Linked DNA regions of Homo sapiens. The protein of the gene in region 2 interacts with the protein of the main gene of each other region in a pairwise test. Each region holds a gene or a part of one and is shown on either strand. Other genes may lie near its edges.

Region 1 (7,727 bases), on a different chromosome or scaffold from region 2:
CAACTTCCGCGAAGCTTACAGGGATGGGAAGGGAAGTGTCTGAAGAAAGGAGCAACTCACCCACTAGACCCCTCCTTCACTCCTCTGAATCACCAGCCCCAGAGCCTACTTTGACCCCTAAACCCCAGTCCGGTTCAGCAGATGCCCTAATTCCACAACCGTCCCCCAGATTCAGCCCCACCTTCTTGGAGCTTTGGTAAAATAAGGAATAAATATGAAATTCTCCCCATGCCAAACCTCCCACTGCTGGGCTCAACTGTGTGACCTTGGGCAAGGCTCTGCCCTCTCTGGGCTCCTGCTTCCCTGAGAATCTCTGAGGCATACCCTCCCTTAAAGGGATCTTACCTTATCTCTTTGAGGACTCAGACAAACTGAAGGAAGATCCCCTCCTTTTTGCTGAGTCCTCCCAGAACCTCCCTTAAGCACCAGTGGGGGTCAGAAGCCTTGGGTAAGGTTGACACCCCATTTATTGGAGAAGACCCCAGCACCCGCCCCCTGAGGTCTTAAGGGCTTTGGTGTATCCTTGGTCACGAGCGCTGGGCCAGGAAGCAGAGTTCCTGAGAGCCAAGTCTAGTGGTTGAGAGAGGACCCTGGCTGGGCCTGGGGAGCAGGAAGCCATCTGTCCAGCTGGGCAGCCCCCATGGGTCCCTGGTGCAGCCCCGGCCATGTGTCCAGCGCCCCATACTCCATGAGGGGGGTCTGCACCCCATCACACGCTGGTTCTGCAGGTCTGCACCCCTGTGAGGCTGCCCCTGGGGGGCATGGGTTCTGTTGGGCTCTTGCTCCCAGCATGGATGACCCAGCGATAGCAGTCAGTGATGCGCTTGTTGGGTGCATGGGGGCCACAGCGGGTGCAGTACACGATGCCCAGTGCAAGCAGGACCACCAAAAAGACACACGTTGGCACCAGGAGTGCCACCAGCAGCCACCGGTCATCCCTCTGGCTGTGCTCGGCAAGACCAGCCTCCCCCAGGGCTGTTGGGGCTGCTGTGGGAGCTGGTGAGGGCAGCCACAGGGCCAACTTGGGACTGGGGCCATCTTCCCTTGGGATTTGGGGGGCTTTGGAATGGGGATGTGTAGGGCTGATGGGTGAGGTCTGGTTAGTGGGGCTCTGAGAGGGCAGGAGGGTGGGGAGGGCTGCGGGCTGGGTGGCAGCAGGCACAGAGATTTGATGGGCAGGAGACACAGGGGACCTGGAGGTGGTGGTCAGAGAGGGCTGGGCAGTTGGGATAATGGGAAGCTGGGTGGCCTGGGTTCTGAGGACAAGGGCATCTGGGGCTTGAGGGGGTAGCTGGGCACCGAGGGTGGTGACCAGAGGGGCATGGTTAGGTGGGATTCCAGGCAAATGAGTGGTGGTCTGGGTGCCAGCGACCCGGGTGTCTGGAAACATGGGGGACTGGTGGGCAGGGAAGAGCTCCGGATATTTGGTTGAGATCATAGGGGGCTGGTGGGCAGGAGGCTGTGCTGAATGAGAGACAGAGAGAATACCGGGTTGGTAGGCAGAAGGCAGATCTGGATAGTTGGCTGCGATCACGGGGATCTGGTGGTCACGGGACAAAGCTGGGTGTGTGGCAGGGATCACAGGAGGCTGGTGGGCAGAAGGCAGTGTGGGATGCGTGGCAGAGACCACCACAGGCCGGGTGACGGAGAGCACTGAGGAGTGGTAGGGGACCCTGGGGGCACTGAGCGGGGGTGGCCAGGTGGGCTCCGGGTAGGGTATCTGTGGCTCTCTGTCCTCTGGGAAGCTCGGTCTATAGGCCAGGGCAAAGTCAGGCGGCTGCGTAGGCTCCATCCACAGGATCCCAGGCATCTCCGTCCAGCCACCGTTGAAGGCCTTCCAGGCCTCGTCTTCATCTTCCTCATCCTCCCCGTCATCCAGCAACTCATCTCCGAGGTCCTGGGAAGCCTGGGCACCCATGGCCCCTGCAGGGCTGCAGCTGATGCCATCAGCCTCCAGCTCATGTCCCTCGCTACAATAACACTCGAAGCCACCAACGTAGTTGACACACATCTGCTGGCACACACCGGCAATCTGGCACTCATCTGTGTCCACACAGCGGTGCGGATCATCCTCCGCTGGCCGGAAACCCAGGCGACAGTGGCAGCTGTAGCCTTGTGGCCCACCGGGCTCACACTGCTGCTCGCACGGAGCCTGGGCACAGGGGTCCTCGCAACTGCGCCCGTCTGCTGCCAGCCGGAAGCCCTCAGTGCAGCGGCAGGACACGTGACCATCCACCTCCTCCACACATTCGTGTTCGCAGCCCCCGTTGTCAGGGCTGCAGCCAGTCCCCAGGCACAGGGGCCCAGCCCGTGACCAGCCCACACCTCCCTCAGGCTGCTTCACGCAGAGCAGAGAGGCTCCCCTGCCAGCCTGGCACTGCACAGCGGCCACAGAGCCGAAGGGCAGCCACTCAAACTCTGTGGAGACCAGGTGGAAGGGCGTGGTATACACGGCTGGGCCGGCCTGGCCCGCCTCATCTTGCAGCGCCGGGCAGGCGCCCTCGAAGCCAAACTGGCACAGGTAGCCGTCGACAGCCAGCGTGCACGAGCCCTCCAGCCAGCGGTGCTCGCCACTTGCCTCCAGGGCCACACAGCGCTGGGCCGGGCAGGGGCCTCCAGAGGCTGGCTGGGCCCAGTTGGTGAAAGCCGTGTCCTGGTCCCCTGTGGTCCACGTGAAGCCGCGCAGTGGGCGCTGCAGCTGGCATTGCCGGGCCTGCCGCTGCAGCCCGATCCACAGCAGCCGGCTGGCTGGGCCCGCACCCACCAGGCTGTCCACACGCTGGGCCTCCTCGGGGGTCCGAGGAGTGGCCAGGTCGCCCCCCAGCTCGCGGCAGGCCCGCCAGGCCTCCAGGAAGGTGCGGCGCCGTGGGAAGAGAGCGTAGCAGCTGCTGGGGCCGCAGGCGGCACGGGGCTCAGCAGCCCAGGGGTCCTGGCCCAGTGTGGGCCCTGCGGCCGCCCAGGCCAGCAACAGGCGCAGCAGCATCGCGATGCCCCCGGACTGGTCCGGCCCCGGGCTGGCGGCAGCTCTTGACAGGGGGAGGGCCTGGGGCCTCCTGCGGGCGGGCCGGGGGCGGGCCTGGGGCCGGGCTCAGGCCTTGTAAGGAGTGGGCTGGGGCGGCTGCCAGCTCCCTGCTCCCTCTTCCCCGGGGGCCGCTAGAGCAGGAAGCAGTGGGGTGGGGGGCTCTAAGGTTGGGGGCGGAGGAGGGGAGAAGGCGCAGTTGACGGCTGCCCCAGGCCCCATGGGGCTGAGAGTCAGGGGGTGGGAAAAGCCTGCCTGCCGAGCTCTGTGACCCTCAAGTTGGGGCTCGGGGCTGTGGGGTGAGGTCGCTTCCCAGAGACTCAGAGACCCAAATCTGGACACAGCAGCCCCATCACACCCGGGAGCAGTCTCAGCCCAGCTGCTCGCCATGCACGGGAACACCCTCATGCCCACTCCTTTCTTGCCCCACAGACGCGCGCATGCGCCTCCCCCACCCCCAACCCCATGCAAGAGTGCACTCTCTGCCAAGCTGTTTGTCCCTTCACCTCACCGTGGACCTATGCTGGCTTGCAGATGACTCCCTTGCCACACGTACACACATTCTGACATGCTGAGACCCTAGGTGCACATACAAAAATGGTGTGGCATTCTACATGGCCTGACATATGAAGACCTCCGATTCGGCCTGAATGGAAACAGCTTGGTCACCCAGGCACAGGCATCCTCAGCCTCTCATTTATTTACTGAGCCCCTGCGTCAGCCTCTCCCCCTATACTCAAGCTTTCTGGTTCCAGCTGGGCCAGCGTGTGGGGGTGTTGGGGGAGTGAGGGGGCCAGGGGCTGCCCTCCCCTCACCCCAGCTCAGCCTGGGGCCCTGGGAACCTGGGCTTAGAGGGGGAGGAGGCAGCCCCTAAACAGGAAATGCCTCTCTGGGCTCCTGCGTCAGGAAGGCAGGGTGCGTGGTTTAGGGGGCTGGGTGGGGGCTGGGCTGCACGCAGGATGTGGAAGGCTGTGAGGGGACCCATGCAAGGCCATGTATGGGCATGGGGCACACAGTGACATATATGTGTATATGTGACACAGGCATCACGTGTGTGGAGCCCTCCCTGCCCCCGGGGCCTGCTGTTTCGGCCTGGCCAGGGTCCTCTTCCCGCCCTTCCTGGAGGCCTCTGGAGGCATGTGCACTGAGCCCATCATCCAGGATGGCCTCTGGGGAGCTGGCTGGCGGATTAACCCATGCACACCCGCTGCACTCTTAGCAGAAGTTAGAAACAGTGTGGGGAGGTGGGGGAGAGGTTCCGCCCTTCAGTAAACTGCCCTGATGCAGCTTCCCCCTCTGCCACAGATGGATCGACTTTGTGACTGCAGGGGAGTCACTGGCCCTCTCTGGGTCTCCTTTTTTCTCAGTTGCAACATGAGGGCAATGAGTCCAGGATTTTTAGCTCAGCAGGGCTGAGATATTGCGTCACAGCGCTCAGTGTTTGCAAATGTGCTTTGTCAGCTGTGGAGCCTGAAGCAAATGTTCCTGTCTTCTGAGCATATGTGGTGGGTGGAGACCAGGGTGCGTTTTTGCAAACCACCTTACAGTGCCTAGGCTGGCCCTGCAGACCCAGCCAGCCCCTCGAGAACCAGGGCTTAGGAAGTTCTTGCCATATGCCTGGAAGTTCCTTCTTACAAGGTCTATACATGTGAAGCACACAGAATGACTCCCCTTCTCAGGAGACAAAAGTCAAGATGGAGGAGTTCATCCTTCTGTTGGCTCAGGCCCCAAACCTTGAGGTCATGCTTGACTCCTCTCTTTCTCCCACAGCCCACATCCAGTCTCTCAGCAAATCCTGTTGGCTTCACTTTCAAAAGAGATCCAGAATCTGACCACTCCTGGACACCTTCTTTGCCACCCACCCCCGGCCCAGGTGGCTAGCAACGCCAATCTAGATTTCCCCAACAGCCTCTCCCGTGGTGTCTCTCTTGCCCTCTCCATCCTGCCAGAGGGATCCTTTCAAAATCCAAGTCAGATCTGATCACTTCTCCATTCAGAACCCTCTGAGCCCCCCATCTCGCTTAGAGGAAGGGCCACAGTCCTTGCCATGGCCTCCTGGTCTATGTCATCTGCCTCCAAACTCTGGCCTCATTGCTGTTCCTTAAATGCTCCAGACACTCTGCCTCACAGCCTTGGTCTTGGCTGTTCCTGCTGCCTGGAATGCTCTTCCTCCAATATAAAAATGCTCTGCTTCTTTACCTTCTCCAGGGCTCAGCTCAAGTACCAGAGTCCTTGACCATCTCACCCCACCCCACACCGCCCCCTGGGGCTCCTTGACCACTGGATCTTCCTGCATTTTCTCGCTCTGCACTTATCACTATCTGACATTAAATATATTTACTTGTGAAATTAGTTGGACGTGGTGGTGCACCTGTAATCCCAGCTACTCGGGAGGCTGAGGCAGGAGAATCATTTGAACCTGGGAGGTGGAGGTTGCAGTGAGCCAAGATTGCGCCACTGCACACTCCAGCCTGGGCGACAGAGCAAGACTGTGGAAAAGAAAAGAGGAGAGGAGAGGAGGGGAGGGGAGGGGAGAGGCGAGCGGGAGAGAAAAAGAAAAGAAGGAAAGATGTTGGGAACAAGCCCCCCAAAATTTGGCCATAAACTGGCCCCAAAACTGGCCATAAACAAAATCTCTGCAGCACTGTGACATGTTCATGATGGCCATAACGCCCACACTGGAAGGCTGTGGGTTTACCAGAATGAGAGCAAGGAACACCTGGCCCCGCCCAGGGCGGAAAACCGCTTAAAGGCATTCTTAAGCCACAAACAATAGCATGAGTGATCTGTGCCTTAAGGACATGCTCCTGCTGCAGTTAACTAGCCCAACCTATTCCTTTAATTCAGCCCATCCCTTCGTTTCCCATAAGGGATACTTTTAGTTAATTTAATATCTATAGAAACAATGCTAATGACTGGCTTGCTGTTAATAAATACGTGGGTAAATCTCTGTTCGGGGCTCTCAGCTCTGAAGGCTGTGAGACCCCTGGTTTCTCACTTCACACCTCTATATTTCTGTGTGTGTGTCTTTAATTCCTCTAGCACCGCTGGGTTAGGGTCTCCCCGACCGAGCTGGTCTCGGCAGAAAGAGAGAACGAACGAAAGAAAGAAAGAGAAAAGACTTACATGTTAGACCTAAAACCATAAAAACTCTAGAAGAAAACCTAGGCAATACCATTCAGGACATAGGCATGGGCAAGGACTTGATGTCTAAAACACCAAAAGCAATGGCAACAAGAGCCAAAATTGACAAATGGGATCTAATTAAACTAAAGAGCTTCTGTACAGCAAAAGAAACCACCATCAAAGTGAACAGGCAACCTACAGAATGGGAGAAAGTTTTTGCAACCTACTCATCTGACAAAGGGCTAATATCCAGAATCTACAATGAACTCAAACAAATTTACAAGAAAAAGCAAACAACCCTATCAAAAAGTGGGCGAAGGATATGAACAGACAGTTCTCAAAAGAAGACAATTATGCAGCCAAAAAAAACACATGAAAAAATGCTCATCATCACTGGCCATCAGAGAAATGCAAATCAAAACCACAATGAGATACCATCTCACACCAGTTAGAATGGCGATCATTAAAAAGTCAAGAAACAACAGGTGCTGGAGAGGATGTGGAGAAGTAAGAACACTTTTACACTGTTGGTGGGACTGTAAACTAGTTCAACCATTGTGGAAGTCAGTGTGGTGATTCCTCAGGGATCTAGAACTAGAAATACCATTTGGCCCAGCCATCCCATTACTGGATATATACCCAAAGGATTATAAATCATGCTGCTATAAAGACACATGCACACGTATGTTTATTGCGGCACTATTCACAATAGCAAAGGCTTGGAACCAACCCAAATGTCCAACAATGATAGACTGTATTAAGAAAATGTGGCACATATACACCATGGAATACTACGCAGCCATAAAAAATGATGAGTTCATGTCCTTTGTAGGGACATAGATGAAGCTGGAAGCCATCATTCTCAGCAAACTATCGCAAGGACAAAAAAAACCAAACACCGCATGTTCTCACTCATAGGTGAGAATTGAACAATGAGAACACGTGGACACAGGAAGGGGAACATCACACACCGGTGACTGTTGTAGGGTGGGGGATGGGGGAGGGATAGCATTAGGAGATATACCTAATGCTAAATGACAAGTTAATGGGTGCAGCACACCAACATGGCAAATGTATACATATGTAACAAACCTGCACGTTGTGCATGTGTATCTTAAAACTTAAAGTATAATAATAATAAAAAAAATTTTTTAAAAAGAAAGAGAGAAAGAGAGAAGGAAGGAAGGAAAGGAGAAGAAAGAAGGGGAAGGAAGAAGGAAAGGAGAGGAAGGGAGGGGTGGGGATGGGAGGGAAAGGAAGGGAAAGGAAGAAGGGAGGGAGGGAGGAAGGAAGGAAGGAAGGAAAGGAAAGAGAGAGAGGAAGGAAGGAAGGAAGGAAGGAAGAAAGAAAAAGAAATTTACTTGTGGATTTGCTTATTGCTTATGGCCCAAATCTCCCCTAGCCAGTGTTTCTCAACCTTGGAGTTACTGGTATTCAGGCCTCGGTAATTACTTGTTGTAGGGACTGCGTGGTGCATTGCAAGGTGTTTAGCAGTGTTCCTGGCTCCTATGTAGATGCCAGTGGCATCCCTCCAGTTGGACCATCCAAAATGTCTCCAGACATTGCCAAATGTCATGTTCCC
Region 2 (7,824 bases):
TCTTTTACTCCTTAACTAGGTTACCCATCTTGGTAATGTGCTCAGGTCTAAGTCCCTAATTCCTGAGGACTCAAGTTCAAGTCAGCTCTTGTCCCAAGGACTCTGTTCCTTTCCTGAACTCCTGGGGCTTGTAACTGAGTCTTCACCATCAGCTGATAACCTCCGTGTCACCCCTGCCTGCCTCCCTATGGGACTACCTAGGGGGTGCTGGCCTGTTATTTCTCCTTATTCTGCTTTGTCCTTCTCTTGATAAGACCTTGTTGGATATCTCTGCCTCCACCTCTCACTCTCACTGCTCAGAAAACCTCAAGAGATCTTGTCCTGCGTGCCACACCAGAAACCACTAGACACCTGCAAAAGGGCTTTTTGCACACTGTCTTCACCACTCAGGAGCCAGAGCTGGATCTATACCCAGTTCCTCCCAATTGGCCACCATCAGCTTCATTGTTAGCCCAAGGTAAATTTTGTATCTATTGGGGGAAAAAAGTTCTGCCTTCCTCAAAGGATCTTAAATAATAAATCTACAAGGACTATAATGAGTAGAGAACCTCTTGAGGGTGTTCAAAGAATATCTACATCCATCCTAATCAGGGTCCCTCTGAGAGGGACAGTGGTAGGAAACTTAACCAGGCAGAAGTTCATAAATAACAATAAGAAGGCAGCAGGTTTAGAAACTCGGCTGTAGTAAATGGGAGAAAGGGTCAAATTCAGATGAGAAGACTGAGTAACAGGCAGAGGTACCAGAAAAAAAGAGGAAAAGAATTTTCTTAAAAGGGGGCCGGGGTTGTGAGGAACAAGTGATCCTTATAGAGGTTCTACCAAATGCAAAAACAGCTTTGGGAATGATCGTTGACAAAGCAAACAAAAACGTAAAGTGGGGAAAGGACACCCTTTTCAGCAAATGGTCCTGGGATAACTGGCTAGAATGAAACTGGATCTTCATCTCTCAACTTATACAAAAATCAACTCAAGATGGATTAAGGACTTAAACTTAAGACCTGAAGCTACAAAAATTCTAGAAGGTGACATTGGAAAAACCTTTCCAGACATTGGCTTAGGCAAGGATTTTATGACCCAAAACCCAAAAGCAATTGCAATAAAAACAAAGATAAATAGCTGGGACCTAATTAAGCCAAAGAGCTTTGCACAGCAAAAGGAACAGTCAGCAGAGCAAACAGACAACCCACAGACTGGGAGAAAATCTTCACAATCTATACATCTGACAAAGGACTGATATCTAGAATCTACAGTGACCTCAAACAAATCAGTAAGAAAAAATCCCATCAAAAAGTGGGCTAAGGATGTGAATAGACAATTCTCAAAAGAAGATATACAAATGGCCAACAAACATATGAAAGAATGCTCAACATTACTAATGAAAATCAAAACTACAATGTGATACCACCTTACTCCTCCAAGAATGGCCATACTCAAAGAATCAAAACACAATAGACGCTGGCATGGATGCAGCAATCAGGGAACACTTCTACACTGCTGGTGGGAATGTAAACTAGTACAGCCACTATGGAAAACAGTGTGGAGATTCCTTAAAGAACTAAAACTAGAACTACCATTTGATCCAGCAATCCCATTACTGGATATCTGCCCAGAGGAAAAGAAGTCATTATTCGAAAAAGATACTTGCACACGCATGTTTCATGCATGTTTATAGCAGCACAATTCACAACTGCAAAATTGTGAAGCCAACCCAAATGCCCATTAATCAACAAGTAGATAAAGAAAGTGTGGCATATATATATATGCATATATATATATGTGTATATATATGTGTGTGTATATATATATATGTGTATATATATATATACACACACACAATGGAATACTAAGCCATAAAAAGGAATGAATTAACAGCATTTGCAATGACCTGGATGAGACTGGAGACTATTATTCTAAATGAAGTAACTCAGGAATGTAAAACCAAACATCATATGTTCTCACTGATATGTGGGAGCTAAGCTATGAGGACACAAAGGCATAAGAATGATACAATAGACTTTGGGGACTTGGGGGAAGGGGGGCGAGGAATAAAAGACAACAAATATGGTGCAGTGTATACTGCTCGGGTGATGGGTGCAGCAGGATCTCACAAATCACCACTAAAGAAGTTACTCATGTAAGCAAATACCACCTGTATCCCAATAACTTATGGAAAAAAAAATAATAAAAACCAATAAGCTGGAAGCTGCAAGTGGAGGAAGGAAAACCCATGTGGTACAGACAGATAGTAGACATGTGCAAGATGGGACATTTCCTTGAAACAAATCCTCCTTGACCAGCACTAACTGGATGATCCTCCACAGGTAAATGCAGATTTGATTTACAGGGAGAAGAGAGAGGGAAAAGGGGAGAGGAAGGAGAGAGGAGAAGGGAGGAGAGAAGGCAAGAGGGAAGAATTGGAGGGAGGAGGAAGGGAGAGAAGGGAAGGGGAGAGGAGAGAAAAGGAGAGGAAGGAAGAGGAGAGAAAGACAATTTTAAGGATACATTTATGTATAATAAAAATGGCATTTCATCAGATAAAATGAAAACCAAAAAGGTAATCTCAGTGGTACTGTGAAATGAAAATTAAAATACATGAGTTCTAATTCTCAATTGATCACTCAAGTTTTTGGATAACGAACTAAATTTTTCTCTTCTCAGTTAAAACACTTTAAAATGAGATGGTGGACTGCCTAATCTCCAAGGCCTTTCCTATTCTACATATCTATGAGGTTTTCCTACAGTAATTAACAAAATCTGAAGTAAAGTGTTTTATTTTGTAAAGGTTAATCACACATTAACTGGAGATTAAGTTTTAATTACAGGTAACTACAAAAAAAAAAAAAAAAAGTCTACTTGCCCTGCACTCCTGATAAGAAACTCAACTATATCGTAAGATACTTGTGACTTTAAAGGACTTGAAATGACATAATAAAAACATCGTAGTGCAAATGGCCTGTGTATAGCATAGAAATAAGAATAAAAGGCTTGTTTTCTTACATTTTTAAAATTTTCTAAAAGTTATATCCTGCTGTAAATATATGACTATAGTCTTAAGAGTTTATAGTTTATACCATTATAGAGTTTATACAATACTTTGATACATACAATATCATTTGATCATAAAAATAGCTTGTGTAGTAGGCAAAAATAGTTGTCAGTTATCTTTATTTAATAAATTACAGTATTTCATGCTATTAAGAGGTTGATCTTCTGACTACTTGTTGACCATTTTGAACTTATTACATCCTTTATGAAAAGTCTTTATCTATGACATAGGCTTTTCTATAAGTTTCAACTAAAGAGAAATCACTATATAAAATTGAGATGAATTATACAATTATTTAGCAAATCACATGTTCATATATATAAGTGCACAGAATTTACTGTGCTTGAATATGTTGGCACAGAAGCCAGTTTCCTTGTCTAAATATTGTCTGTTTTCTCCCTTAGTGATAGCATTAGAAGCAACAACAAAAACAACTTAGAACAGTTCTGTACCTTGTCTAACCCAAATGAGAGACAGCACAGAATAATAAGCTTTATGTTATTTCCATAGACGTTATGTAAATCTGATCCATATTAAATAAAGTCACCCCATTTTCCATGGCTCATAAGGATGAAATTGTGTAACAAACAAATGGGTTTATGGTGGTCTATTTCCTCTCTCCCGTTTGAATTTGTTCATCTTTGGCTACTGATATATTTCTCAAACGATACAATGTGACTCCAATTTTTTTACTGATATCTATTTAGTGCTGCCCTGAAAGTGATCTGTAAAGGAGACTCCTTATCCAGTTAGGCATTGGTTTTTACCTCTATGTACATAGCAGAATCATTAAAAAACAAAAGAACGACAACCTGTGCCCAGTCCCTTCCCCAAACAAACTACATCAGAATTTCTGAGAAGAGAGGATATGTGGCAGCAGTATTTTTTAGAAGTTCCCCAGCTGATGGTACTGTGCTCCCGTGGCTGTGAAGTATCGAATGCAGTGCTTCTCCAACCTCAATATGCTAGCGAATCGCTTGGAAGTCTTATTAAAATGTGGACTTTGATTTAGTCCCTCCAGCATAGGTCCTGAGATTTTGTTGTTTTTTTTTTTTAATGCAACTATGTGATACTTAAGATGCCCACCTGTGGATCACACTTGTAGTATCCTGTAGTATCAGCATCACCTGAGAACTTGTGAGAAATGCAAATTCTCAGACTTACCAGGGACCTACTGACTCAAAAACTCTAGCGATGGAGGTCAAGCAATCTGCTATAGCAAGCCCTCCACATACACACTGAAATTTGAGACACACTGGCCTAAAAAAAAAGAAAAAAGAAAAAAGAATTCTCTGAAGTCTAAATAACTGGCTGTATGTGGTTGAAAAGCCGTTGATTGTTTACATTTGTGTAGCACTTTATAATTCAACAAACTTCTACCTTACCTCCTGTGAACGTCTTAAAACAACCCTGTAGGGTAACTAAAATAGATAGTTTCAGCATTTTTATTTATTTATTTATTTTTGAGACGGAGTCTCGCTCTGTCGCCAGGCTGGAGCGCAGTGGCGCGATCTTGGCTCACTGCAACCTCCGCCTCACGGGTTCAAGCGATTCTCCTTTCTCAGTCTCCTAAGCAGCTGGGACTACAGGTGGGCGCCACCACGCCCAGCTAGTTTTTGTATTTTTAGTAAAGATGGGGTTTCACCATGTTGGCCAGGATGATCTCAATCTCTTGACCTTGTGATCCCCCCGCCTCAGCCTCCCAAAGTGCTGGGATTACAGGCGTGAGCCACCGCACCCAGCTGACAGTTTCAGCATTTTGTAAAGGAAAATGAAGCTCAAAGTATTCAAGAGACTTGCTTAAAGTTACAGCATGCAAGGATAGATCCAAATTCAGAGCCCAGATCTTCTGAGTCGTACAAACTAAGAGGTAGGACATTGAGAGAAAAACAGGGCCAGTGGCTATAAGCTGTAAATTATGCCCTGGAGGAGGGATATCTCTGAGGCTCAGATGATGACAGGGAGAGGGACAAGGATATTGAGGCAACCTCCTATCAGGGGAGTCACAGCCCTTTGTATTTGGCACTCTCAGAGACCAGGGTAAAATGCACTAATCCTTTTTGGGCAGAGTTTGCTGTTATGTGGAATCAGCTTTGAGAAACACAAAGGTTTAACCCTCACCAGTGACTCAGTGGATGAGTCAGTCACCTTTGGTTCTTTCCACAATTCTACAAATACGTCATTCTAAGTCAAACCACATAAAATAAAAATCTCCTGTGTATTGTATGTGTGTATAAACCCACTTATATGTCCCATACTTACAGAAACACAGGTGGCCACAATTTGCTTTTCTTGCGAGATTTGCCCACTCTGTTTCTCAGGCCATAAATGACAACAAATGATAAAGCTCACAGGTACATAAATATTCTTTAACAAAATGTATATAATATGCCATATTCCTAGATGATATATAGTATGCTATACTCCATCATTTACTAAGTATATTTGATAAAGGATTTATCTGCAATGCACGATCCTTACAGTATCAGGGCTAACCAACAAATTTTGATAACATTTAGTGATTTAACTACAGAAAAAGAAAATTTCATGATGGTCACAAACTTACCCAGTAGGCCCATGCCCACAGTTTGTTTCAAATAGTGAATTGTAAGTCATAGAAAATCACATATCGTATCAAGAATTTGAGGGTTGACACTTCATTAGTGAATATTGCCATTCCACATGATTTACAGAAGATAAACAGAAATTTGAACAAGATCTTTATATTTCACTATCAAATAATCAAATCTCCTTTTGTTGTTTCTTCTTTTCCCCCCTTGGTGTAGAAACAAACAGGGAATTAAAGACCCCAACTTTGAAAAAACTAAACATTAGCTATTCTTCATTTAGATACTTAGTTTCCTTGGGAATCTGTAATACTTGTTAGGTACGCTAACATTTAACTGGGAACAATGTTATTATCATTAAAAGTATTATAATATCCTGTAAACATCAGATAGGGTCAGAATTGTGAGCTAAATAAAATTTTATTACCTTGAATTTAGAATATTTAAAATCACAAGTGTGAAGTCCCTGTATTTTATCACATGCCTACTTGTTTTATATCCAGATACGCATGTGTATGTACGTTTTACAAAGTTGCCTTATGAATAGATATGTGATAATATAATGTATTATAAAACTAACATGGTTCTTTGTGGCCAAATATTTTATTATTATCTTTTCAGAAATCTGCCACTCATGTTGAAAATATGGTCAGTAGGACTATTAAAAATGAAATTTTAAAGGTTGGTTTGAAATACCCTCTATTTCTGCTATTCTTTGACTTGTAAGAGAACTATTAATACATAGTCTCAACCTTCCAATATTAAGCAGGAGGTGAATCTCTATGGGTATGAGGGTAGGAGGGAAGAAACAGTGTTAGAAACTTATCCTGTAATTGAACTCTTACTCCTGTGGGAGCTGGTAATGAGGCAGGTAGACTCTGTTTAGAAAAGCACCTGAGGCAGCTTCATGACTGAAGTCCTGCGGATAAGCGTGTCTCACTCTTTCCTGTACACACAAATATAAATGCAGATTCTGGTTGTTCTATTTAGGGAGGACCGCCAAGGCTGCTGCTGCTGCCGCCACTACTCTGTGAATCACACTTTGATTCTTTGTCCCTGGGACAGAAGTTGGTATTGTGGTTATCTTTAGTTCTTTATATAATTTCTCACACAGGTCTGTAATCTCCTCTAGAAAATAATTGAGTTAGGTATGTATACATGAAGCTACCTCTCTTTCCCTCCAATTTTGTCACCATAATTATATAGTTTTTATTATTTTCAAAATGATAGAAATTGAGGGCAAGACCTGAAGCCTAGTGTGCACTCTCCTATCTGATGCATAATTACACTAAAGATCATAATTATACAAAAATGAGCATCAATCCCCAAAAGAAACTCTTGTTTCACAGAAAACTTTAAGTCAGTGAAGGTAAATGTTTTGGGGACAGACAGCCAAACTCCTGTCACTGGATTACCAGAATTACAAACCTCCCTTGTCTCCTGTTGCCATCTCATATCATTCGGGGCCACAAACTCACTAAGAGAATTATTTTTTTCTCCTAGCCATTTCACTTTCTCGGTGCCAGACATCTACTGTGGCTTCCAATGAATCAAGTTCTCCTTCCTTTCCTTCCCTGAAAGCTCATGCACCCAGTAAAATGTCACAAATAAAGTGAAAACACACCTTTCCCAGGCTGGCCTTATAAGCAGAAAGCAAGAGCACCATTCTTCACCAGGAAACTGACCCAGAAAGCTTACCGGTTTTAAAGAGATTGAGAAGAAGGTCAGCTAAGAAGACAAAGGGAATTCTCTCCATAGTTAATTCTGATGAAGCTCCACCAACCCCAAAATAAACCCTTGTCCAAGGCAAGGAAATAAAAAAGAGGGCATGTAAGGTGAGGTCTGGAAAAGAAATGGTGTTTCATAGGCGACTTATTTGCATGCTCTGTTTGTCTGTCTTTTCTTTCCCAGAGAATAAGTGGTTCTGTGTTTATTTTTTCTCTCAGAGTCCCTATTTCCACACTGTAATGTCTGCTAAAGCGTAATGTTTAAAACTCTGTTTCTATTGCGCCATAGACATACAAAAGCACATATGTATCATCCATAGATATGTATACAGTGAGACTGCCTCTGTATGAAAGCATAAGAATGTTTTTATTCTTCTGAATTAACATTTCTATACTTATCTAACTCTTAGACAACTGTAGTTTAAGGTATAGGAGATGCTAACTTAGAAAGACCTTACAAAGCTCAAGGACACTGAAATAAAAA
Region 3 (7,970 bases), on a different chromosome or scaffold from region 2:
AGAGACAGCTGAGATTCTAAGACCTTAGAACATAAAAAGGGTATAGTTCTAAGTAAGCATCCAGGTAAGCATCCAGGCCGGGCACGGTGGCTCCACCAGTAATCCCGGCACTTTGGGAGGCCAAGGCAGGTGGATTGCTTGAGCTCAGGAGTTGGAGACCAGCCTGGGCAGCATGGCAAAGCCCTGTCACTGCAAAAATACAAAAAAAGGCTGGGCGCAGTGGCTCATGCCTGTAATCCCAGCACTTTGGGAGGCCGAGGCAGGCAGATCACGAGGTCAGGAGTTCGAGACCAGCCTGACCAACATGGTGAAACCCCGACTCTACTAAAGATACAAAAAAAAAAAAGAAAAAATTAGCTGGGCGTGGTGGTGCGCGCCTGCAATTCCAGCTACTCAGGAGGCTGAGGTAGGAGAATTACTTAAACCCAGGAGGTGGAGGTTGCAGTGAGCCAAGATCGCGCCATTGCACTCCAGCCTGGGCGACAGCAAAACTCCGTCTCAAGAAAAAAAAAAAAAACAATAGTCGAGTGTGGTGGTGTGTGCCTGTAGTCCCAGCTATTTGGGAGGCTGAGGTGGGAGGATGGCTTGACTGCAGGAGTTTGAGGCTGCAGTGAGGTATGATTGCACCACTGCACTCCAGCCAGGGTGACAGAGTGAGACCCTGTCTTAGGGAAAAAAAAAAAAAAGTAAGCATCTCCTGGGTAATACCTGGTTCCCACACATTTTGGAGCCCCTCGTGCCTTTTCAGAGAGAAGTGTCAGCTTCGAGTGGCAGTTGGAAGTGTTCTCGTCAGTAGAGTTAATGGGTTTCATGGAAGCCCAGCTGATGGCGAGGAATGATGGGAATTTCTCTTCCCTCCTTGAGAGTATCTTTCCTTCCAGATGACGATTCCTGGGACCTCGTGACCTGCTTCTGCATGAAGCCATTTGCCGGCCGCCCCATGATCGAGTGTAATGAGTGCCACACCTGGATTCACCTGTCCTGTGCGAAAATCCGGAAATCCAATGTTCCAGAAGTGTTTGTCTGCCAAAAGTGCCGGGACTCCAAGTTTGACATCCGCCGTTCCAACCGCTCGCGGACGGGCTCCCGGAAGCTGTTCCTGGACTGACTGCTGGCTGGCGAGGAGGCTGCGAGCGTGGAATCGGAAGCGACCGCGGGCTTTTTTGCCCTTCTCTTAGTTGAGCACAGAACCCTCAGCTCTGGTGCGGGCAGATCCCTGCCATTTAGGTGCCTAAGCAAAAGGACAGGCTGTCCAAGGTAGAAACTGTACATAGCCGGTGACCGAATGCGACCTTTGCCAGCCAGAGCTGCTGCCAGAGCTGCGTTCCCTGCAGTGGAGGTGGACTGGACACCCACGTGCAGCGGGTTTGGCTCATTTGAAAATGAGGGTCCGTGGTAGCTGTGCGTTTTGCTATCATTGCTAAGAGATTCCCGCTGATTGGGCTCAGTGCCAGCTGTTATTCTGCTTCCACTGTGTTGGGGAGAGGTGTTCGGTTTCCCCAGCCTGTTAATGAACAGCCATACGTGTAAGCTTTTTCTTGAGTGTTAAGTCTTTTACCAAAAGTGTCTGTACAGCAGCCATCCAAGTTGCCCCTACTTAGTGGCTTGCCCTCTGCCTGCCTCAGCTGCTGCCTGACCGGCTGGGGGAGGCACTGGCGGGAGGCCTCGGGCTCCCCTGGAAGGGCGCTGGGCTGGCGGGTCAGCTGGTGGTTCTTAGGTTTCCTTCTGTTTGTTAAAAGGGACAATGTGGCCACTTCTCTGTGGAAAGGGAGTTGGTTGGGGGGTTGAGATGGCCCGTGTTCATAACTCAGTTTCCTGTTTTGCACGATGTAAAAACCCTGTCTTTTTGCACGATACAGCCAAAAGTATTGGCTGATTTCTTGCTGAGTGCCCTCTTAGTTGGTGTGTGAGGTCTTGGTGGGCTCAGGCCAGCTGTTTGCGAGTGTGGGAACTCATAGGTTCTGTCTTTGTCTCTTCCTTTCACCTCATTCTGGTAGCAGCATAAAGGTTAGGCAATCACTGGGACCCGCATGGTGTTCCTCCAAAGAATAGGGTAAAGGAGAGCTGGGAGGGAGCCCTCTCCGTTGGGTGACTCTTGTGTGCCCTTTAGACAGGCTGGCCTGCCGGTTCCACAGGGTACAGTTAGGACTTGAGTCTTTCTTTTTCTGTTTTGAGTTGGTGAGTGAGTGATAGGGTAACATGGGCCTTCAGGATGACCCCTTGGAACTGTGCCGAGTTCCTTAAATCTCAGCTGGGATCCTGGACCTGGGAGGCCCCTGTGAGGGCCAGCTCTGGAAAAACCTGGGAGTTGATGCCGGAGGCTGTGGAAGAACTCTGCTCGAGGGCAGGGTGCCCTGGAACACTGGTAGTTCTGGGGCTGGGAGGGAGAGGGGCTCCGGCTTTCTCTGAAATGAACACTGCTCTTCAGCAGTTCAAGTACTTGTTCTCAAAACATTTTCTAATTGATTGGTAGGTTTTCATAAGCATTGTTTCTTTAAGGCATGGAAAGGGAAGAATGCTCAAGCAAGTCATGTTTGTTTTCAGTGGGATGGGCCCGCGTTCTCACTGCTGGGGGCTTCCCCTTCATGTGGCACCTTTGTGCCAGGCCACCAGGCAGACTCTTCCCACCTTCTCCCACTGAAGCACCAAGGGGCTTGAACCGTAATTTGGCTAATCAGAGGCATTTTTTTTGTCCTAGTATCTTTCACACTTGTCCAACCGTCTTATTTTTTTAAAAGTTCTGTTGCTTGTATTAACACGAAACTAGAGAGAAATAGTTTCTGAAGCCAGTTTATTGTGAAGATCCCCAAGGGGGAGGTTCGGTAGAGAAAAATAGTAAGCTGGTTTAGAAACTGACGAGGGCAAACAGCCAGGACGCATTGGAGAGGAATTTGCCAAAGATCTACCCTGAGATAACGCCTGTCCAGTGTCTTCACCACGTGAATAACCAGCGCTCCAAAGTGTTTTTCTGCTTTGAAAAAAAAAAATTCCACAAGCTTTTAAAGGTGCATTTAAGAATCCATGTGACTTTAGAATGGAACTGCCGGCCCTGGCAACTGTCACGTGTGCTAGAAGGTTCGATGCCTCTGGAATGCATGTGATACTCATCTCCATTTTGTTTCCTTGATTGCATTTTTGTTCTTTTAGCAGATCTGTCCCTGTGGGTGGTGTCTAAGAAGTCGGACACCTTGGTTTTTGTGTTAGATTGAGCTGGGCAGCTGCAATCAGCTTCTTTATATGCAAATTAGGCACGACCCATCTGTGGTTCCTGGTTGGTGGCTAATGAAGTGAGGGGAGGGAGGGATGTCACCCCAAAAGTAGGCCCTCCCATTGGCTTTGGCCAGGCCAGACACTTCACATCGTTTACATGGTTCTGTGTAATTTTAAAGTTTATGTGTATAAAGCGAAGCTGTTTCTGTGAAACTGTATATTTTGTAAATAAATATATTGCTACTTTGAGGTTCATGATTCAAGGTTCAGGCGATTGCGTTCTGTGCTGAAGGACAATTGTGTTTCTTTTCTCCTTGCTACCTCCCCAAAGCATGATTACATCAAGTCTCTGGGAAGGCAGCGTCTCAGTGTGCACTTAGCAGGATGGAAAATGCCCACGGTGTTAAGGTACCTTGCTGGTGAATTCCTTAGAAACAAACCACAGGACGAGTAGATGTGAATGGTTTTTGCAGTTTCTTCATCAGATTGAGGATTAGCTCAAGCCCCAGTGAGTGGTTAGCCTACTTTTGATTTTTTTTTTGTTTTTGAGACTTGAGTTTCGTTCTTGTCACCTAGGCTGTGAAGTGCTGTGATGAGATTTTGGCTCATTGTAACTTCCACCTCCCGGGTTCAAGAGATTCTCCTGCTTCAGCCTTCCGAGTAGCTGGAATTACAGGTGCCCGCCACCATGTGCGGCTAATTTTTGTATTTTTAGTAGAGATGGGGTTTCACCATGTCGGTCAGGCTGGCCTTGAACTCCTGATCTCAGGTGATCCGCCTGCCTCGGCCTCCCAAAGTGCTGGGATTACAGGCGTGAGCCACTGCGCCTGGCCGATTTTTTTTTTTTTCTTCTTACAAGATGACGCCTTCCCTATAGGCTGCTTTGAGAAAGCTGCAGCCTCGGAGTTTCTGCAAGGCCTGAACTGGAATCTCCCTCCCCTTCAGTTGCCCTTTTTGCCTCTTCACGTTTGGGGGTTCCCTGTGACCAAACTTAAGGGCAGTGAGCTGTCTGGCCTCTGAACTGACACCACCAGTGGCCAACTAGTACCACCTCCAGTGACGTCAGAGGAGTCCAGACCTATTCACAATTCAAAGCCCTAAAAACACTGAGGGGTTGGCCGTTGGTTTCCAGTTGTCCAAGCCTGTGAGTGGCTATGCGTCCTGGTTGGGTGCTCAAAGCAAGGAGGTGAAAGGCGACCAGCATTGGCGAATGGGGTAAGACTTGCACAGGCCCAAGGCTAGGAGTTGGGGTTTCGGGCCTGAATTGGGGCCCGGAGCACCCCTTTACGTGGCGCCCCGGGTCCCGTCCGACCCTGGGGAGACGCGGGTGGCTGGGATGGCAGGATGAGCGCGCCCTGGAGGCGAGCCAGGCCCGTCACCACCTCCCAGCGGCCCCGCCCCTCCCCGCAGGTCCCTCCCCTCTCCGCAGGCCCCGCCGCCGCCGCCATCTTTGTTGGGGGCAGCCAGGCCTGGCTCGAGATGCCGAAGTCGTGCGCGGCCCGGCAGTGCTGCAACCGCTACAGCAGCCGCAGGAAGCAGCTCACCTTCCACCGGTAAGAGGCGGGGACCCGGGGGCGCGGGAGGCCCAGACCCGGGGCCCGCGGACCGACTCCGAGGCCTTGGCGCGCCGGGCGGGAGGCCCAAAGGCGTGCGGCCGCTGGGCCCGGGGACAGGCCGAGGTCCTGGGCCCAGAGGGGCTGGCGCCGCCGCGCCCGCCGCGGGGATGCGGGGAGTGGCGGACGGAGGGGCAGCGGCGCACCTGGCGGGGCCAGGGCCGGGACGTGCAGGGAGCGGAGCAGGTGTTTGCTGAACAGACTAGCGGGCCGCGGCCGGGGTTTGCTGTGTCCCTGGTCGCTGCAGCCCCCGCCGCGCGCGGTCCTGAAGGGAGCCCGGCACCTGGGCAGTGCAGTGGAGGAGTGGAACCCCCAGGGGCGTCCTGGCAGTGGGAAGGGACTCTGCAGGGTCGCGGGAGGACGCTGGAGACTTTGGAGTCTGCTCCAGCACTCGCCCGGCCCGGCCCGGCCCGGCCCAGGAGCAATCGTCATTAGTCACAGTTGCGCTTTCTCCAAGGTCCAGTCACGGCACCATTTCTCTACCCACTTTTGGGCACATTCCGAAGGGGGGCTTGTGCTCATCGTTCCCATTCCCTCTGCTCCCATTGTTCTGTTTTGTGATAAATGCTTTGCTTGAAGTATACGTAATGTACATGCAGAAAAATGCACGAATCATAAGTATACAGCCCAGCGAGTTTTCCCCAAGTGAACGTCACTGAACTGAAACGTTACCAGCTGGGCGCGGTGGCTCAAGCCTGTCATCCCAGCACTTTGGGAGGCCGAGGCGGGAGGATCGCTTGAGCCTGGGAGTTCGAGACCTGCCTGGGCAACAGAAGGAGACCCTACCTCTACAAATAATTTAAAAAAATTAGCCAGGCAAGGTGGTGTGCCCCTGTAGTCCCAGCTGCTCGGGAGACTGAAGTAGGAGGATCGCTTGAACCCAGCTTCGAGGCTGCAGTGAGCTATAATCTTGCCACTGCACTCCAGCCTGGGTGACAGAGCGATACCTCATCTCAAAATAAGAAATAAAACATCACTACCCCCGAGAAGAACCCCTACCTGGACCCCCTCCCAGGCCCTCCTCCTCTCTCCTGCCCAAAGGGAACCCTATCCTGCCCGCTATCAGAGTGGATTGCAGTTCATTCGCTTTCGTTGCCACATAATATTCCATTGAATGCAAGTGCCAGAATTTACTGATTTGTTCTACAATTGAAGGGCATTTGGGTGGCCCCATTTTTTGGATGACAAATACATGGTTCTGGAGGCTGGGCGTGGTGGCTCACGCCTGTAATCCCAGCACTTTGGGAGGCCGAGCTGGGTGGATCACCTGAGGTCAGGAGTTGGAGACCAGCCTGACCAACATGGTGAAACCCCGTCTCTACTTCTCTACTACAAATACAAAAATTACCCGGGCGTGGTAGCGCGCACCTGAAATCCCAGCTACTCAGGAGGCTAAGGCAGGAGAATCACTTGACCCTGGGAGGCAGAGCTTGCAGTGAACCGAGATCGCACCACTACACTCCATCTTGGGCAACAGAGCGAGACTCCGTCTCAAAAAACAAAACAAAACAAACATTGTTTTGGCCAGTTTTGGTGGGACTTGTGTTGCAGTGCATCTATCTGTTTTGCCTCTGTCAGGTATGTACTTGGGGATGGAGTTGCTGCGCCTTCTCTCTTGAAGTCGTTTCCTCCACTCCCACGAGAGCTCTGTCACATCACTAGTGAGCCTTGTGACACTGATCGATTGCATAGCATTTCACACAACTGACCCCTGAGCCTGGGTCACTTTTCCCGCATGGCGTCTGGTACACTTCTTGGCCACAGGTGTCTCTTCTCAGTCTCCTTTGCTGGATCCTCCTTATTTCCAGCACTAAGTGTTGGAGCCCTGGGGTGTGGGCCATGGCCCAGGGGTGGCTTCTAGCCACACTTGCTCCCCAGGGGCCCATCTCACCCAGGCTTATCGGTTCCGCAGGGTTGGCCGCCACACTGACATCTCCAGATGCGTGTGGCCGCCTGTCACCCCAGCACATGGAGAGCCTAAAAAGCACCTCAAATTTAACTCCTGACATAAAAAACAAACTTCTTTTTTTGGAGACAGACTCTCACTCTGTTGCCCAGGTGGAGTGCAGTGGCGCAGTCTCGGCTCACTGCAGCCTCTGCCTCCCTGGTTCAGGTGATTCTTGTGCCTCAGCCTCCCAAGTAGCTGGGATCACAGGAGTGCGCCACCACGCTGGGCTAATTTTTGCATCTTTAGTAGAGATGGGGTTTCACCATGTTGGCCAGGCTGGTCTTGAACTCCTGAGTTGAGGCAGTCTGTCTGCCTTGGCCTCCCAAAGTGCTGGGATTACAGGCGTGAGCCACCATGCTCAGCTGCTACAAAACAAACTTCTGATCCCCTTAACCTGCCGTCCTGTAACTTAATTTTATCTCCAACATGAAACTCCTTCCTTCTCAATTTTACCATCTACAGGCAAACCTTACTGCATGGCTTTCAAAATACATCCAAGTCTGCCCTCTCATTACCACTTCCTGCCAATGCCTGGTCCCACAGCAGCCAGGGTGGACCCAGGTTCCATCTCACCTCTGTCTAGAGCCTCCAGGGACTCCCCAGCTGCTCAGGGCCCTGCGTCATGCAGTCCCCACTCCCTCTCGCTGTCTCAGCTGGACCTGCGTGAGTGGCCGTTCCTGCTGTCCCTTCTGAAGCCTGCGTCGCTTGTGCTGCCACTTCCTGCGGTCTGTGCTCAAACATCACCCCTTCAGCTGCCTCTCCTCACCACCCCAGGGCTTCCCTCTGTCTGTTCTCTGGAGCAGCTGTCATCCCCAGAAGACACCGTCCACATCTGTGTGGCTCATCACTGTGCCCCCGCTCCAGAATATCAGCTCTTGGGGGCCAGGACTGTCTCATTACCCCCCATCCCTAGCACGAAGAACAGGGCCCGGCTCCTGGTAGGCTCCTGGCAAATGTAGCATCGGAAGCAGCTCACTTGGGCTCTCTGGCCATGCTCGTGGTCTCGGGTTTCCTATTAAGAGTGCTTTAACAGCTGTGACAGAAGCTTCCAGAAATTAGATGTGATTTAATAAACCGAGAGGACTGAATGTCCACAGCTGTCCAGGGAAGTACTCTGTAGTGATGTGAAAATTCCGAATGACTCTGAGGCGCTGGGTCCAGCCTTGCTGGGCCTCACACCCCGTGCCTCTGCCCTTAGG
Region 4 (7,824 bases), on a different chromosome or scaffold from region 2:
GCCCCCACCTGCAGGCATCATCACGCTACACATTAGGGCTTCCAAAGGATATGCCACAGCTTATGGCTTCAGTGATGAGACCCACAGGCTGCCAGCTGGCTCGGAAAGCACTGGCTCCAGCCTACCGCTTCAGCCCTCTGACTCACTTTCCTCAACTGCCAGATGGGAATCACACTCCCTGAGCCAGGTTTGGCCAAGGCTAGACAACATTCAATACCAAGTTGAGAGTACAACATGCAGAAAGGCACAGCCCAGAGCAATCTCTGACTGGCAGCCTGAAGAATTCACAGGCCTTTCCTGTGTTTAGATAGATAACTTTCTTTCCTTTTTTTTCAGATGGAGTTTAGCTCTTGTTGCCCAGGCTGGAGTACAATGGCGTGATCTTGACTCACTGCAACCTCTGCCTTACGGGTTCAAGTGATTCTCCTGCCTCAGCCTCCCAAGTAGCTGGGAATACAGGCGTGCGCCACCAAGCCTGGCTAATTTTGCATTTTTAGTAAAGATGGGGTTTCTCCATGTTGGTTAGGCTGGTCTCGAACTCCCGACCTCAGGTGAGCCACCATGCCTGGCCTCAGATAGATAACTTTCTAAGAATTAAATGTCTTCCCATTTGCACAGGATTTCATACTTTTCAACTCTTTCCTGTTCTGCAAGGTAGACAGGAAGGAGTCTCCATGTGACAGATGAGGAACAGGAGGCCCTGAAGCAATGGGGGAGCGGTAAGGATGACATCCTGCCCTGCCCTGCCTCCCCCACCTCCCCTGTCCGCTCCCCACCACCATAAGGCAAAAGACACTGACAGTCATAGCTGCTCTCGCAGCTCTGGAGGCTGCACTGACACAACAAGAGTCCTCAGAACATCTTCCACCTCTGCTTTCCCCTTCAATTCACACTATAGTTGGTATGATTCTCAACAACTGTCAGAGGGTTAGTTTTATTACTCCCCAGACCCAAGCAGGCCCTGAAGCGGGGCTTGGAGGGTTCCCTGCTTGTTTATTATTTTTTAAAAAGAACAGAGATACGGTTTTGCTATGTTTCCCAGGCTGGTCTCAAACTCCTGAGCTCAAGAAATCCTCCCACCTTGGCCTCCCAAAGTGCTGGGATACAGGTGTGAGCCACCGCAGCCAGCCAGTCCTGCCTAATTTTTGAACAACCAAAAAGCTTTCAAATGCCATTATCAATGCTCCCCAATCTTGCCTCCTTCACTCCCTTAACCCCTGTCATTATTAAAGCTGCCTCCCCTGGCCCCACAAGCCCATCTCCTCACCCCTCTCCTCCCTACCCTTCAACACCATCCCCAGCAACACCAGCTCTACCAGCACCAGTGAATAAGAATCACAACCTGGATGGGCTCCAAGTCCAACTTCACCACATTCAGATATGGGATTCAGAAAAGTTTCACCGGAGCCCGACTCACATTCTATCATGTGGAAAGCGCTCTGCTGAGGAGCCCTGTTCCTCTAAGATACGCATGTGACAGGGTCTAGTCAGCATCCCACCTGTCCAAATAAGACTTTAAATGAGAGCACCATGGGCCTCTCTGTGTCCCCCTGAGCTTGCAGTCCATCCCCTTTACTCACCGAAGCCTCCGGGGTTTGATCGTGGAGTATAGAAGCTCTGAACGCCACATCTCTTACAGAAGGTATGCTGGGCTTTGTGAGTATTGAACGTGTAAGTCGTTATGTGCTCAGCTCCCTAGGTGAAAACAGACAAACGGTATTCTTTTTTACAAAGAGATTTATTTATTTAATTTATTTATTTATTTATTTATTGAGACAGAGTCTCCCACTGTCTCTCAGGCTGGAGTGCAGTGGCGCAATCTTGGCTCACTGCAACCTCCACCTGCATGGGTTCAAGAGATTTTCCTGCCTCAGCCTCCCAAGTAGCTGGGATTATAGGCGCGTGCCCCCATGCCCAGCTAATTTTTTGTATTTTTAGTACAGACAGGGTTTCACCATGTTGGCCAGGTTGGTCTCGAACTCCTGACCTCATGATTCACCCACCTTGGCCTCCCAAAGTGCTGGGATTACAGGTGTGAGCCACTGCGCCTGGCCCCAAAGACATTTATTTTTATGTCACTTAAAAAATACACCTTTGTAGCCGGGTGTGGTGGCAGGCGCCTGTAGTCCCAGCTACTCGGGAGGCTGAGGCAGGAGAATGGCATGAACCTGGAAGGCCGAGCTTGCAGTGAGCCGAGATCATGCCACGGCACTCCAGCCTGGGCAACAGAGCGAGACTCCGTCTCAAAAAAAAAAAAAAAAAAAACACCTTTGGCCAGGCATGGTGGCTCATGCCTGTAATCCCAACACTTTGAGGCCGAGGCAGGCGGATTGCTTGAGCCCAGGAGTTCAAGACCAACCTGGGCAACATGGCAAAACCCTGTTTCTACAAAAAAATATAAAAATTAGCCAGGTGCAGTGGCACACATCTGTAGTCCCAGCTACCTGGGAGGCTGAGGTAGGAGCATCAGTTGAGCCTGGGGAAGTAGAGGCTGCAGTGGGCTGAGATCGCACCATTAAAAAAAAAAATCTTGAAATAACTTAATGGCAGGAGCTCTTCTGTAGGGCTCTTTGTACTAAGAGGCCATTTCCTATCTCCAGAAGAGACTGGGACCTTCTTGAGGACAGAGACCCATCTACACTATCCAGAGACATGTCAGTCTGGAGCGTGACAGCTCACAGCTTCCCTTAGGTCAACGGCATACAGAATTCAGCCTTGAGCCTTCCCTGATACATCACATCAGGGAGGGAAAGTGCTTGCTTCCCAGGGCCTATGTGGAGAGACAGTTCACCCAAGGGACTGGCTCTCCATGTCCCCAAACAGAACGGCTCAAGGTCTTAAGAAAACTGATGGCTGTGCTTAATTTATCCACAAAGGACAAACCAGGAAAAAAATATTTGCCAGACGTCATAGACAGGCTAATTTCCTTAATGGATAATACAAACGGGAGACTGGACAAAGGACATGAACGGACAGTTCAGATAGAAAGAAAAATAAATCACTCTTTAGCCTATGAAATGCTCACCAAAGGAACTTCAATGAGATGTATTTCACTGTCAGGTGGGCAAAATCAAAGCCGTTAACATGGTATTGACAAGTATGTAGAGAAATATGTGCTCACATATATCAGTCACAGGAACAGGAATTGGTACAATTTAGCAACATCTACCAAAATTTTAAAGTGTACATATGCTTTAGCACACAATTCCATTTCTTGAAATTTATTATACAGATATATTCCAAATGTCTCAATGACATAGGTATATAGATACTATAGCACTGTTTATGAAGGCTAAAGATTGGAAAAATTGAAAATGTCCCTCAATAGAGGACCGGTTAGGCATTATGGACACTCATAAAATGAAATATTCTCCAACTTTTGAGAAGAATGAGACAGCTCTACAAAACTAACATGGAACAATTGCCAAAGTTACAAAGTAAAGCAAGGTATAGGCCAGGCGCAGTGGCTCACGCCTGTAATCCCAGCACTTTGGGAGGCCAAGGTGGGCAGATCACTTGAGGTCAGGAGTTCAAGACCAGCCTGGCCAACATGGTGAAACCCTGTCTGTACTAAAAATGTAAAAATTAGCCAGATGTGGTGGCGGGCACCTGTAGTCCCAGCTACTCAGGAGGCTGAAGCAGGAGAATCACTTGAGCCTGGGAGGCGGAGGTTACAGTGAGCCGAGATCACACCACTGCACTCCAGCCTGGGCAACAGAGTGAGACTGTCTCAAAAAAAAAGTTAAGCAAGGTATAAAACAACGTACGTGGTATGCTACCATTTCTTTTTTTTTTTTTAAGGCTATATACTGGTATGTGTGGTGTTTTTGTTTTGTTTTGTTTTGTTTTTTTGAGACAAGATCTCACTCTGTTATCCAGGCTGGAGTGCAGTGGTATGACGACAGCTTACTGCAGCCTTGACCTCCCAGGATCAAGTGATTCTCCCACCTCAGCCTCCCGAGTACCTGGGACTATAGGCATGCAACACCACACCTAGCCGATTTTTTATTTTTTGTAGACATGGGGGTCTCGCTATGTTGTCCAGGCTGGTGTTGAACTCCTGGGCTCAAGTGATCTGCCTGCCTTGGCCTTCCAAAGTGCTGGGACTACAGGCATGAGCTACTGTGCCTGGCCTGTATGTGCTTTTATATGCATATGTATCTTTGAAGAGGGATCCAAGAAACAGTGGCTTACCTTTAGGGAGAGAAATCAGACAGCTGAAGGGGAAGGGGTGGAGGTTTCTTATCCTTGTTAACCCTCTTTACGCTTCCCCAGCCATACCGTCCAGAATTGTGCTTCCTATAGAAATAGCTCCCTGAGGAGCCTTGCTCACTCCATAGCCACTGCAGCACAGAAAAGCAGCGAAGGACTGCCAAGTGGTCCCAAGCCATCCAGCATTATCTGGATGGAATTAAAGCCCCGCCCAACCCCACATTACCCATAATGTGCTAAAAGTCTTTTTTAAAAAATCTGTATTCTTTAACCTGGAGATTTTCTTTCTCTCTTTTTTTTTAACTGCTCCTTGTAGAGCAGGGTGTAGGAAGTGTGCCCAGAATAGCCAGAGAACTTATTTCTAAGAGAATTGATCCTAAAGAAGAAATTTCTAAATTGTCAAAAATGTATACCAAGGAGGTTCACCAGTGTTGTTGATAATCAGAAAAAAACGGGACTCAACTGCAATGATGCAGAGACAGTGATGGGGTAAGTAGACCAGGAAATCGGCTGTGGGGAAGAGGGAGACTGGGGCATGGGGACAGTAGGGAAAGATTTTTCACTGTGTATATACACATTTTCTTCTACCTTTCAAATTTTGTACCAAGTACAAAAAATTCCCCAAAATAATAAAATTAAAGTTACAAATAAGTATATAAGCTTTTCATTGGGAAATGAGATAAGCAGTTTATCAACAAAAAGAATGGTAAAATTCTACTTAATAAACATAAGACAATAGGTTTAGATGTATTTCTCAGAGTAGAAAATAATACACAAAGACAGACACCAAAATATTAACAGTGGTTACCTTTAGTTGACAGGATTTGGGTGATTTTATTGTTTTTTGATTCTCTGAATTTGAAAATGTTTCCACAATACCAAATAGGCCTCCAAAAAATAAAGGTAAAAAATAACACAACCTTTTATTTTTTATTTTCATTTTTTTTGAGATGGAGTTTCACTCGTCACCCAGGCTGGAGTGCAATGGTGTGATCTCGGCTCACTGCAACCTCCACCTCCCAGGTTCAAGTGATTCTCCTGCCTTGGCCTCCCAAGTAGCTGGGATTACAGGCATGCACTACAACGCCCAGCTAATTTTTGTATTTTTAGTAGAGATAGGGTTTCACCATGTTGGCCAGGCTGGTCCTCAACTCCTGACTTCAGGTGATCCATCCATCTTGGCCTCCCAAAGTGCTGGGATTACAGGCGTGAGCCACTGTGCCGGGCCCACCTTTTAAATGTCAACCTGAAACCAAAGCCCGTGAGAGGCCCTGCTATGCTCCAGGCCCCTCCCATGCTACAGACGGCATGCTAACAGTTGGGTGGGGGGTCCTGTAAATCTCACCAATGGGTTCTGCACTCCTTGACCCTGCTCTTAAGCACTGACCTTCAGGAGCTTGAAGCGAGAAGCTGGAACAATGAAGTGTCTATTCTGCTTCTTCTTGCAAATGCTGCAACTACAGAAAGACAGAGCAAATTCCAGATTGTGAGCAGCCACCTGCATCCTCTATGCCTGAGCGGCCCAGCCATGAGAGCCAGCCGACCCCACAGATGATGCCCCTTTCAGCACCATCCAGGGCCGAGGAGCTGGGGCAAAGGCCTGGATAGCAGTGCCTCTGGTTTGCAGGTACAGCAGAGCCCAGGGGGGTCCCAAGTCAGCAGTCGAGGTTCTGCAATGCTCAGAACACAGGACCAACAGACAGGTCTGTACTGCCCACCCCTCAGTTCTTTACAGTGAAGAGAAGCGCTGGACTTCAGAGACACTTAGGAAACAAATTTCAGACACTGCTACAACCTGATGTCTCTGAGACATCCACACCAAAAATGGACAAGGAAGTTTAGGTTTCCCTCTTTCTTCATCACCACGTCACAAGAAGTCCAGCTCCAAGTAAAACACGTCCCCAGAATTACCATCTCTGGAATTAAACTGAAGTCCCCTCTTTTCAGGCCACCTTTGAAAAAGTTCTAATTTAGCACAGAATCCTCTCACAAGTTATTCCACAGTGCTTCTTTTCCAATCTGGACTCTATTGTTAGTAGCCTGGTCAGTTCTCCATTTGAGTAATTCCATCGTATGTGCTTATTATTCATATATAATTCCGGTACCTAGGGGCAAAAAGGACTGGATGCTGTTAAATAATTAGCTGCATGCCAACTTTGGGTCCCAAAGCCAGAGCCTGTCGTCCCTGCTCCATCATAACGCCGGGGAAGGTGGTACAAATCAGGCCCTCCACAGCCAGCAGTGCCATCTGCCTCAACCGAAGAGCAGAGCGAGAGTGGAGGGCCTGGGGAGCCTCCAGGTGTATACACCCTTTACTAACATACCCTCCAACTCTCCCCAACTCTAGACTTCTATGAAGATTCTGCCCAAGGCTTTCCACTCAGTACCCAGCCAGGCACACCTGCAGCTAACCGCCCCCGGCTCCTCAGCAGTGTCAGTCTGAGGGTGATGCTGCCACAAGCCACAAGCCCTGAGGACCCTGCTCTGTGTCACCTGGGCCATGCTGTTGAAGCTCTGTGATGAGCCATATAAAAGGAACAAAAATAGAACAATGAACCTTTCTGTCCCCATCACCTGACTTCAACAGTTACCAGCCCAAGGCCAATGTTTCCTCTGTACCCCAACTCCCCAGATTATTTTGAAATATTGCATTTTAACTCTGAAATTCTTTTAAGCCAATTTAGGGAAAAAAAAATACTCACTTGCAGTCAAATATATGCAAGTCTGCTGAGGCCCAAACTTCAAAACGAACTGCTCCACAGTGGCAGCCTCCTGTGTGCTTCACCAGGCCCTGGTATTCACTAAATGAAACAAAAATCAGAAAGATAATAATTTCTGAATAGCTGCCTCCTGCTCTCTTTTTGTTGCTGAAAGAAAGACAGAAGATTAGACAAAAGTCTTTTCTACATGACAACCAGATGCATTTCTGCTTTTAAGGAGGCACTGTCAATTTCCTAAGTGAAGAATGGTTTCAGCACCTTCTTTGTCCATGAGCTCTCTTTTCACCAATTTCTTAAATTATATTAAGTTGCAAAATAAAACATTCCAAACATTTCGAAAATGTGAGGGATCCTAACCCACCACCAGACATTTTTATTTATATGTCAAATACTAAATTTTTTTTTTTTTTTTTGAGATGGAGTCTCAGTCTATTGCCCAGGCTGGAGTACGGTGGCACGATCTTGGCTCACTGCAACCTCTGCCACCTGGGTTGAAGCAATTCTCCAGCCTTAGCCTCCCAAGTAGCTGGGATTACAGGCGCCTGCCACCGCGCCCTGCTAATTTTGTATTTTTAGTAGAGATAGGGCTTCACCATCTTGGCCAAGCTGGTCTTGAACTCCTGACCTTGTGATCCACCCACGGGGACTCCCAAAGTGCTGGGATTACAGGCGTGAGCCACTGCTCCGGGCCTCAAATACTAAATATTTTTATGAGCTAGGCACGAAGGAGAGAACACTAAACAAGATACAGCAGACACGATTGCTACCCTTACCGACCTTAACAATTTACTCAAATAATAATTAATTATGATTGTGATAAAGGAGGTACAGGCTGCTATGAAAAATAAGACTGTGTACTCAATCAAGTCCAGAGGTCCAGAAGAGCCTTTTG

Evidence for each region.
Region 1: the proteins of LSAMP (region 2) and CD248 interact in binary tests that used the Homo sapiens proteins (3 or more experiments, as listed by UniProt).
Region 3: the proteins of LSAMP (region 2) and THAP3 interact in binary tests that used the Homo sapiens proteins (3 or more experiments, as listed by UniProt).
Region 4: the proteins of LSAMP (region 2) and CENPV interact in binary tests that used the Homo sapiens proteins (3 or more experiments, as listed by UniProt).

Annotation. Positions count from the first base shown.
Region 1 is NC_000011.10:66,314,045-66,321,771, forward strand, and holds CD248 (endosialin precursor), read right to left. Parts: upstream 3,001-7,727; 5' UTR 2,984-3,000; coding exon 710-2,983; 3' UTR 450-709; downstream 1-449. UniProt on the Homo sapiens protein: Cell surface glycoprotein involved in various biological processes including angiogenesis, immune response modulation, and tissue remodeling and repair. Participates in pericyte proliferation through positive modulation of the PDGF receptor signaling pathway.
Region 2 is NC_000003.12:116,435,231-116,443,054, forward strand, and holds part of LSAMP (limbic system-associated membrane protein isoform 1 preproprotein), read right to left. Parts: intron 1-7,824.
Region 3 is NC_000001.11:6,620,530-6,628,499, forward strand, and holds the start of THAP3 (THAP domain-containing protein 3), read left to right. Parts: upstream 1-4,338; 5' UTR 4,339-4,425; intron 4,426-4,620; 5' UTR 4,621-4,689; coding exon 4,690-4,763; intron 4,764-7,969; coding exon 7,970-7,970. Other genes in the region: PHF13 (PHD finger protein 13), read left to right, coding at 882-1,108. UniProt on the Homo sapiens protein: Component of a THAP1/THAP3-HCFC1-OGT complex that is required for the regulation of the transcriptional activity of RRM1.
Region 4 is NC_000017.11:16,343,017-16,350,840, forward strand, and holds part of CENPV (centromere protein V), read right to left. Parts: intron 7,014-7,824; coding exon 6,915-7,013; intron 5,670-6,914; coding exon 5,600-5,669; intron 1,696-5,599; coding exon 1,581-1,695; intron 1-1,580. UniProt on the Homo sapiens protein: Required for distribution of pericentromeric heterochromatin in interphase nuclei and for centromere formation and organization, chromosome alignment and cytokinesis.